3 separate regions of the Homo sapiens genome follow, and all the other regions are reported to be linked to region 2. The links are microRNA targets in miRTarBase. Many come from high-throughput screens and were not tested one by one. Region 2 holds a microRNA gene; each other region holds the end of a gene's coding sequence.

Region 1 (3,352 bases), not on the chromosome of region 2:
TCAGGTTCAGTAACCTGCTAGGAGGACTCAGACTCACTAAAAGGTATTACACTCATGGTTTGAATTAGGGTAGGGAAAGGATACACGTTAGAACCAGCGAGAGTGAGAGAGAGAGAGAGACCCTGGAGTCATGGATAATGTTTCTTCCTCTCATCCCTTACATCTGACAACACAGAGACTATATTACCAACCAGGGAAGCTCACTCGAGCCTTGGTGTCCAGTTTCTGTTGAGGTTTCATTCTGTAGGCATGATTGCTGTCTTTCTCAACTGATATACCATGTGACCCAAAGTCCCCATCCTAAATCATATACTTGGTCTTTCTGTCCTGGCCAGCACTACCCTGAATTGTCTCATTAGCAACAACTGTCAGGTTTGGTGAACATACCCACCATGAGAAACAAAGATTCCTACCAGGAAATTCCAAGGATTTAGAGGTTCACCTCAGGAGCTGGGACAAAAGGCAGAACTCTTAGGATAAGGCCAAATTCCTTACTACACAAGCAGTTAACATTTTTTTAAATATTCACCCCCAATAGGTAAAATACTGATTTTTTTTCAACTTTTTCTTTCCATTCTAGAAATTACAGAAGACATCCCCGTGAAGACTTTGAATATGAAGACTGTGTATGTTTCTGTGTTACCAACAACAGCAGACTTCTAGCATGTACTTATCAATGTTGTTCGGTCAGCCCTTCCCTAATTACACCTATCCCCTACACATACATGCACATAGACACACACATGAACACACTGAAGATATTTCCTTCAGGTGTGTGTAAAATATGCTGCTTGGATTGAAATTCAAATGGGATTGATTAGTCAAGTAACTTGAGACCTCACAGTAATCTTCACACTTAACCTTAGACACCTATGCAGTCATGTTGGGAGCAGGTTACAATGTTACTTCAGCCCACAGTTTATTTCTATACTTGAGTTCTTAAGTACAGAAGATAGAAGTGATTTAAATGGCATAGTATATATATCATTTTCTGGCCTTTTAAAATTTATTTGAGACCTCTTGATGAAATGGACATATTATATATTTCTGCCACCTGGATTTTCCTGGATAATTTGATGGAATATTTTAAGTTTCAGTAAATCAGAACAATAAACAAACTCAGATATAAATGTGTTGAAAGTAATTCATTCTCCCATAGATAAATGAAACTTGAAATGTGTAAACTTTGAAGAACATAAAAACTTCATGGTGGTTTCTTATTAAGACAGTGGACTAGACATCTAATAAAACTTCTTTCCAAAATCCCAGGTGATAATTTGAGTCCTCAGAGAAGCAGATGACATGACAAAGTTAGATGTGCAAGAATTTATTAGAGGAAACATAAATGGAGGATAAACGGGAGATGGAGCAAGCGTAGGTCGAGAGAGCCTTCAGACTGCAGTGTGGGTCTGACACCTGTAAAAAGAGAAAATGAAGATTGATTAGCAAAAACTTAGACTGCAGTGCAACTCTAAGATGAAGTCTTGGTCAGGCCAATGGAGAGTTCCCAAGCAAGGATTCCTTTTAGTAGAGTTCAGAATTGGGCAGAAATAGCCTGGCTTTGTTTCTCTGACTTCCTCAAGTCAGTTTCTGGGAGGAGACCAAGGGGAGCGTGGCCTTCGCACAAATGCCTTGATGGATCTGAAAGTACCAACTACACTCCTCATGTCAGATTCTTTTGAAGGGAGATCTGAATGATACATCCCTATGGCTACTACAACAGATGCATTCACACAAAAACCCACAAGTTGGAGAAAATAGAGGAAACAACCAGAACTTGGGGAATTGGAAAGCAGATAGACGGTGTTAACTAACTTGGTAGACCCAGGAAACCCCAATTCTAAATCAATGGAGGAACTGATAAACTTACTTACATTTCAGAATTCACAGCACCAGTTAACCTCTGGGATGAAAGGTAGAAGAGGCACAGAAATAGGGACGATTGCGTGAACACTGGGAAGCCTTATAGCTTCTCCCATTTCCACGTTGCTAAGCAACTTTATTCCCCCCACAGTTGGCATCTGGAAGGTAAAAAGTGACTGGTTGGTAGAAGTCGGAGTGAATGGAAGACAAGAGTACTTGTAAGCCTGGAGGATTCCTAAAACCAACCCTCAGCTTAGATAATTTGCTAGAAAGACTCAGAACTCAATGAAAGCTATTGTATTCGTGGTTACAGTTAATGACAGGGAAATGTTAAAGATCAAAATCAGCCAAAGGAAGAGGAGAGGGCAGAGCCCGGGAGAAGTACCAAACACAGCTCTTGTCCTGTCTCTCTGAAGTCAGCAAGCATTACTCTACTGGCATCAGTGTGTGACAGTATGCACAGAGTATTGCCAGCCAGGGAAGCTCACCCAAGCCTTGGAACCCAGAGTGTTTACTGAGGCTGCTTTACATATCCATGATTGATTGTCCATGTGGTTAATCGCAGTCTCTAGGTCAGCTGCTCGTGCATGACCCAAAACCTCCACCCTAAATCACATTGTTGGTATTTCTGATGTGTTGTACACCCCCCCCACCATAAGACTGTATAGATTTGTCCCACCCCAGCCATAAATCATACTGTCAAGGCTATTCAGTATGATTCAAGATCCCCAGGTAAACAGAGGCATTCCTATGTAGCATAACATCCAAGGGCAAGGCCAAATTCCTTTATACAGAGTACTGTACTGGAAACAAGATTAAGTGGCTTTATGTATACTGTCCACTATACCAAAGAAGAATATAAAAGATTGACACCAAGTATTGGCTGGGAAAAAGGCTCACTCTGAACAATTAACTTTGAAGTTGAGAAGTCCATACTCAGGTCAGTGTTTTAGCCCCCAACTCTTATTCATGAGACTTCCATCTAGAATTACGAGAGATCTAGTGAAAGCCTCTAATCCAAAACCAAAAGAGAGTACCAAAACAACTTTGAGGAATCAAGCAATGCAGTGAGAAGAAAATTCCCCCTGCCAAATGTGTTAATATCCTTAGAGTTATAAGATACTACATCTGTAAAATAACGATGCTACAAAACATGAAAATCTCAAGAGGAGAAAAAAATGTTCCTGTTAATATAAGACTTAATAGAAAAGAAAAAAAATCATTGGAAAATAGTGTGAAATTTTCCAGACACTAGATAGATTAACAATAAATATTTAAGGTGGGAGAAAAGAGATATTATACATAAGTTAGAGTCCAGGAGTTCCAGTATCCAAATTGTAGGAATTCCAGAAAGAAGAAAAATAAGGTCAGAAAATTATAATTAATGTAAACAAATTTTGCAGAACCTACAGCCAGATTGAAAGATATCTTTGGCCGAACACGGTGGCTCATGCCTGTAATCCCAGCACTTTGGGAGGCCGAGGTGGAC
Region 2 (3,000 bases):
GAATCCTAAATTCTGGAGAATACTGCTTTAGATTGCAGAAGAGCTGAGATAGGCACCAATGATAGAATGTGAGCCTAAGGTAACAAAAACTCTGAACTCTGAAGAGTATAGCAGAAGCCTTTTTTTTTTTTTTTTTTTGAGACAGGATCTCCCTCTTTTGCCAAGGCTGGAGTGTAGGGGTACGAGTACTGCTCCACTGCAGCCTCAATCTCCCAAGTTCAAGAGACCATCCCGCCTCAGCATCCTGAGTGGCTGGGACTACAGGTGTGCGCCACCACGCCTGGCTGATTCTTTTTGTAGAGATGGGAGATTCATTATGTTGGTCAGGCAAGTCTTGAACTCCCGGCCTCAAGTGATCCTCCTGCCTCAGCCTCCCAAAGTGCTGGGATTACAAATGTAAGCCACCATGCCCAGCCCACAGAAGCCTCCTACCCCCACACCAAAATAACCCCTTTCTTCAGCCAAACTTTTCAATGATCTGCAGGTGAACTATTTTGCTGGGAGAGAATACATCTTCAATTCTACAAAGAACAGTAATAAGGAAACAATTTACAAAAACCCACTTTATAACCAACTTTGCTAAATCACATCTCTACAGCTAACTGTTCCATCAAGCACACATAGCCTAGTATGTGCTAGGAACAGATCCCAATTAATAGAAATCAACTTTCCACAGTGTCCTCACAGCCTCCTGCCCATTTTCTAGTTCTCTCCACATTCCCATCTCCTGAGGGAAAATGAGCCCCACCCCAGCTCACTGCTAACTCTGACCCCTTACCAAGTCCTACCTGTTGATGAAGTTGCCCAGGTTGTTAAGCAGCTCAGAATTATTCTTCAGCAGCAGGTCCGTCCAGGAGAAAGCACTGTCCTGGCCCTCAGGCCGAATGTACAGCAGATAGAAGCGCCAGATGTCAGCAGGGATCCCCGTGTCCTGGGCCATGTCCCCAAACACTCCCACACCGCGGCTCTTAGAGAATTTCCCATCCTCATAGTTCAGGTACTCTGGACAGAGGAGAATGAGTGAGAACCATCTGCTCACATCACATCCTTCCCCTCTCTAGCCCACTAACTCTTCCTTCTTTCCTCTTTCTAACCTCAACTATGGGTGTCTAGCAACATTTCTCCTTAAGGGGCTGGTATGCTCAGATTTTGGGAGTCCCTTCCTATCCATTCTGGCCCTTTTTTCTCTTTGCTTATATCTACTAAAGAGTTTTAGCTTTAGACTTTTGCTTTCTTCAGGTTCTTGTTCGTTTCTCTAGGTTGAGTTCTCATTTTAATTATTTCCTATTTCAGCTCAACTCCTAACTCAAGATAGCAGCTCTCCAAGATCTTTTTCCAAGTACTGCCTCACCCCTCATTTCCTATGAACACCCCATCAGTAGTCTTCCAGGGTACTTACCTGTAGCAATGAGGTGGCTGACCAAGGTATAGTTATCCTCAGCTCCTAGGGCTGAGCAAGGAAAGACTAAGCTATGGAAAGGAACATTGTCTTTGGCCATGAACTGATACAGGTCCACCTAGGGGAATGTGGTTAGGAGAGATTTCCTGAGACCTCCTTCAAAGGCCCAAGGAAGACCAGACACCCAACCCTAACACCCACACCCTACCGCCTACCCTCCCCATGCACAGCCTAACCAAGAACTGCTCACTTGCTCTGGGTTCTTCCACCATCTCTCCCACTGGTCTGTGTAGTTGGCTGTGATGGACAGATAGCCAATAGTGGCATCAAACCAGACATAGAATACCTGGAGGTCAGAAGGAGGTAAACATGTTAGGGACCAATCCAAAGTCTCAAACTGAAACAAGACATAATCAGCAGTCTACTCTGCTAGCCCAGGGTTTCAACACTAAGGCTGAATGATATGAATAAAAAAGGGTTTTTACCTTGTCTTCAAAACCTTCTAAGGGTACAGGGGTTCCCCATTTGAGGTCTCGGGTTATGCAGCGTGGCTTGAGGCCATCCCGAAGCCAAGAACGGGTGATAAACTGGGCATTGGGTGTCCAGTCACTGCCAGGCAATGTCCTCCCCAACCACTCCTCCAGTCGCTTCTCCAGCTGAGATAACGGAGAAAGAGGGCTGATTTAGGAAAGTCTCATATATGGTTAGCATAAGGATAAACACATATAACCTTTTTGGAGCACAATTTGGCAATATATAACTTTTTTTTTGGAGACAGAGTCTTGCTCTGTTGCCCAGACTAGAGTGCAGTGGTGCAATCATAATCACAGCTCACTGCAGCCTAAACCTCCTGGGCTCAAGCAATCCTCCTACCTCAACCTCCCCAGTAGCTGGGACCACAGGTGCACACCACCATGCCAGACTGTAATTTTTGTAGAAACAGGGTTTTGCCACATTGCCCAGGCTGGTCTTGAACTCCTGAGCTCAAGCAATCTGCCCACCTCAGCCTCCAAAAGCGCTGAGACTACAGTTGTGAGCCACCCTGCCCAGCCTTAACTAGATTTTTAACACACAGCCAGGGGCAGTGGCTTGCGCCTGTAATCCCAGCTACTCCGAAGGCTGACGCAGGAGGATCACTTGAGGGCAGGAGTTCATGACCATCCTGGGCAACACAGCAAAATCCTGTCCCTAAAAAAAATTTTTTTTTTTTTAATTTTTAAAAATATGGAACACTTCACAAGTTTGCATGTCATTCTTGTGCAGAGGATGTGCTAATCTTGTCCATATCAGGGTCTCACTGTCACCCAGGCTGGAGTACAGTGGCACATCATGGCTCACTGCAGCCTCAACCTCCCAGGCTTAAGTGATCCTTCCACCTCAGCCTCCTGAGTAGCTGGCACTACAGGCACGTGCCACCACACCTGGTTAATTTTTGTATTTTTAGTAGAGATGGGTTTCACCAAGTTGCCCACCCTGGTCTCAAACTCCTGGGGTCAAGCAATTCTCCCGCCTCAGCCTCCCAAAGTGTTGGAAGTTGGAATTACAGGCATAAGCCACCGTGCCCAACCAATTTTTTCTTTTTTTAAATACAGACAGGGTCT
Region 3 (3,000 bases), not on the chromosome of region 2:
ATTCAATAAAAGCAAACCTTCCTTTGTTGTTCGGATCTTAGCAATGGGTTTAGTAGTTTTAACTTCTTCCATTTTGAAGCCTTCCATTTTTAGCCTTAAGTAGCTAGACATAAAAAGGAAAGGAAGGAGAGATCATGTAAGTAGCTAATCAGATAAATGAAAACTGACTTGAAGTTAAGTTTTATTAGCCCTTTCTTTTCTTGAATTGAGTAATAACATCTCTACTTTGGATTATGTTCAATAACCAAGAAAACAAACAGCACTTAATTTTAAAAAAACAAAAAAAAAGAAACCCAAATTCCATGAAATAATAGCTTGGTAATAGTATTAATATTCCAGAAAAAATATAAGAAATTTGGTATTTAAAACAAAACAAATAACCAAAATGCTTTCCTCATCTACCAAAACCCAACATTAAGTAAAACTTAAAACAGGCAATTTACCACCTCCATTGAAATGAATACATAGTCTCCAATTTATGTGTGTTGTATTCTAAAGTAAGGACAACTGAAAATCAAGATGTGCTCTCCACAAAAAGTGATATAAATGGCAGCTCAAGAGTTCCAGATAGTACAACACTACAAGGTGTTCTCAACAAAAAGTCTTTGTTAGACTTCAATAATACTATTTGGTACTTCTATCAGCAAATAGGAAGCATTCCAATACTTATTAGATCCTCTACCATCAGACACAGAAATTACCTAGAAAACAGAAATGTATTGCCAAATCTCAAACAAGAGGGCTGATTAAAACAAACAAAAACACCCTTAAGACGTCTCACATACAGAAATCATGGCCATCTTTGGGTTAAGATTGGCTGATTTTCCAGTAGTGCTGGGGTAGGTCTTCCTGATAGAGGGGTCCAGGCATGGCAGGGTCCCGTAAGCGGCTGGTGAGGAGGACCCACTGCTTTGCCTCCTACCAGTGATGAGCGAGGCTTTGGGGAAGGACTATGCGTCCATCACTCCTGATGTTCTTTTCATGGCTCCCCTTCTCAGCTATTGTCCATCTACCTCCAGATGGCAGCAAACGACTTATCTGAGCCCCTTCTTCTCATTTAGATATAAAGTGCAAATGTCTGATTCAGGTACGAGACTGTATGGTCTTTGGTTAAACGTATAATCAAACAAAAAGTATAAATGATACCAGCTCCTTCATTTTTCTGGCAAGAGGAGAGTAACAGCTATCCGGAGAGGACTAGGGAAAGCTAAGGAATGGATTCAAAAGAGAAGGGAAAGGGTAGAAGGTAAAGCTGAGGCTCGAACTTTTGCTTAGTGCCAGCATTGTTGATCTGTAGCTGAGCAAGCTTACATAAAGGCATGTATACACAGGCACGGAGCTCTCTAACATGGAATTGAAGTGAAACCCTGTCTCTACAAAAAATCAGCCAGGCGTGGTGGTGGGTGCCTGTAATCCCAGCTACTCGGGAGGCTGAGGCAGAAGAATGCTTGAACCTGGGAGGTGGAGGTTGCAGTGAACTGAAATCGCGCCACTGCACTCCAGCCTGAGCGACAGAGCGAGACTCTGTCTCAAAAAACAACAAAAAAGAAAGCACTGGTACTTCATGTAACAAATTATGATTTGCGTATGTCTGTACCTTTACAACATTACTGGCACTTGTATAAAGGAGATTCCTTGTCAAGGACTGAATCAAGGAACTTAACACCCTATTCCAGAAAAACAAGTATGCAATACTAGTAGAAGGAAGAAGAAAGCTTCTGTTTTCCTAGGCACAAGGCCTGTCTTCAAGAAACTTTCAAAACAAGTAGTTAGGCTTTGGCTGGCTTCTACACCATCTGCAAACGCCCAGGGCCTTCATGCAACCTTTAGCTACCTAGGGCTACCCAGTACCCTAAAGTGCCCTGCACCTTAAAACTCACCTGTTTTCTCCTTTTTCATTTCTGCCCCTATCAAAACTTCTTTTCTGCCAGGTGCAGTGGACCAACATCTGTAGTTCCGGCTGCTCAGGAAGGTGAAGTGGGAGGATCACTTGAGCCCAGGAATTTGAGTCCAGCCTGGGCAACACAGCAAGACCTCATTGCTTTAAAAAAAAAAAGTAGGGCTCAGTGGCTCATGCCTGTAATCCCAGCTACGTAAGAGGCTCAGGCAGGAGGATTACTTGAGCCCAGGAGTTCAGGGCTGCAGTGAGCTGTGATTGTGCCACTGCACTCCACCCTAGGTGACAGAACAAGACCCCATCTCTTAAAAACAAACCAACCAAAAAACACAGGTTTCGTCTCAGAGAAGCGGGGTGGGCTCTACTTAGTAGTAGAGTCTCTTAAAACAATCAACAGTAGTGTAATTTATCAATAATCAGATAGCAGACATCCCTCTCAGAGATCTATATATTTTCAGCCACAAAGCTTAAAATCTCAAATGTCAACGAGTAGGATTTCAGGCAAAATAAAAGTAGAAAATAAAAATCAGAATGTAGATCCATGTTGGGAGAGGAGGTTAACTTTCCAGGTAATTCATACTGAGATTGTTTACACAGCTCCTGCGGGTCCGGCTTTCTGTGGCTTTCTTTAGCTAAGGCCAGAAATTCAAAAAAATCCCAATGGTTATGGAGATCCCTCCTCACCCATCCATCCACCCAATGAGAAAGAAGAATTTGTGGAGGGCAGGGGATATCACAAGAGAAAATGGCACACCAGGGTGTAATGTCTCAAATAAAAGGCTTACTTTACACTTAATACTAGTATATTACTGTTCATAATAATATATCGTAAAATTATCATGTTATAAAAATATATAATAAGATCTTATAAGAAACTCTGAATGGATTGACGCTTGATAATTCTCTTAAGTAGAACACAATGAAACAGTAGTGGCTGGCTAAGTTCCATCAATTTTTTTTAATTCTTTTTGACTTTTTCTCGTGGTCTTCTGTTATCCTTTCTGCAGGTCGCTTCTTCAACCCCTTCATTTTCCTGGTTTGTAGTTTGCTTAGGTCTTGCTTCTGCATATGAATCCTTCCATAAGTTGTACCAAAAGTATCAT

Evidence for each region. The annotated mature microRNA hsa-miR-6758-3p reads ACUCAUUCUCCUCUGUCCAG and lies in region 2 at 1,003-1,022, opposite strand. An mRNA with a match to its seed (bases 2 to 7 or 8) in the 3' UTR can be bound and repressed. Matches are read on the target gene's strand: a 7mer-m8 pairs with bases 2 to 8, a 7mer-A1 pairs with bases 2 to 7 and ends in A, and an 8mer does both.
Region 1: miRTarBase lists IARS1 as a target of hsa-miR-6758-3p. The part of its 3' UTR that is shown has no 7-base or 8-base seed match.
Region 3: the mRNA of RPF2 is a reported target of hsa-miR-6758-3p. Seed matches in the 3' UTR shown: 7mer-A1 at 1,052-1,058.

Annotation. Positions count from the first base shown.
Region 1 is chr9:92,208,118-92,211,469 of GRCh38, reverse strand. IARS1 (isoleucyl-tRNA synthetase 1) reads left to right here. Exons shown (of 34, transcript NM_002161.6): 34 at 581-1,263. The coding sequence ends at 663. LOC112268048 (a long non-coding RNA gene) reads right to left here and starts at 2,021. Exons shown (of 2, transcript XR_002956919.2): 1 at 1,875-2,021; 2 at 1,312-1,416.
Region 2 is chr12:57,510,753-57,513,752 of GRCh38, reverse strand. It overlaps MIR6758 (microRNA 6758), which reads right to left and starts at 1,065; the gene lies at 1,003-1,065. MARS1 (methionyl-tRNA synthetase 1) reads right to left here. Exons shown (of 21, transcript NM_004990.4): 12 at 1,885-2,055; 13 at 1,650-1,745; 14 at 1,400-1,517; 15 at 789-1,002. It also overlaps the pseudogene LOC124903093.
Region 3 is chr6:111,025,428-111,028,427 of GRCh38, reverse strand. RPF2 (ribosome production factor 2 homolog) reads right to left here. Exons shown (of 10, transcript NM_032194.3): 10 at 165-3,000. The coding sequence ends at 2,846. Among named protein-coding and RNA genes, the nearest start is that of RPF2, 45 kb to the right of the region's middle.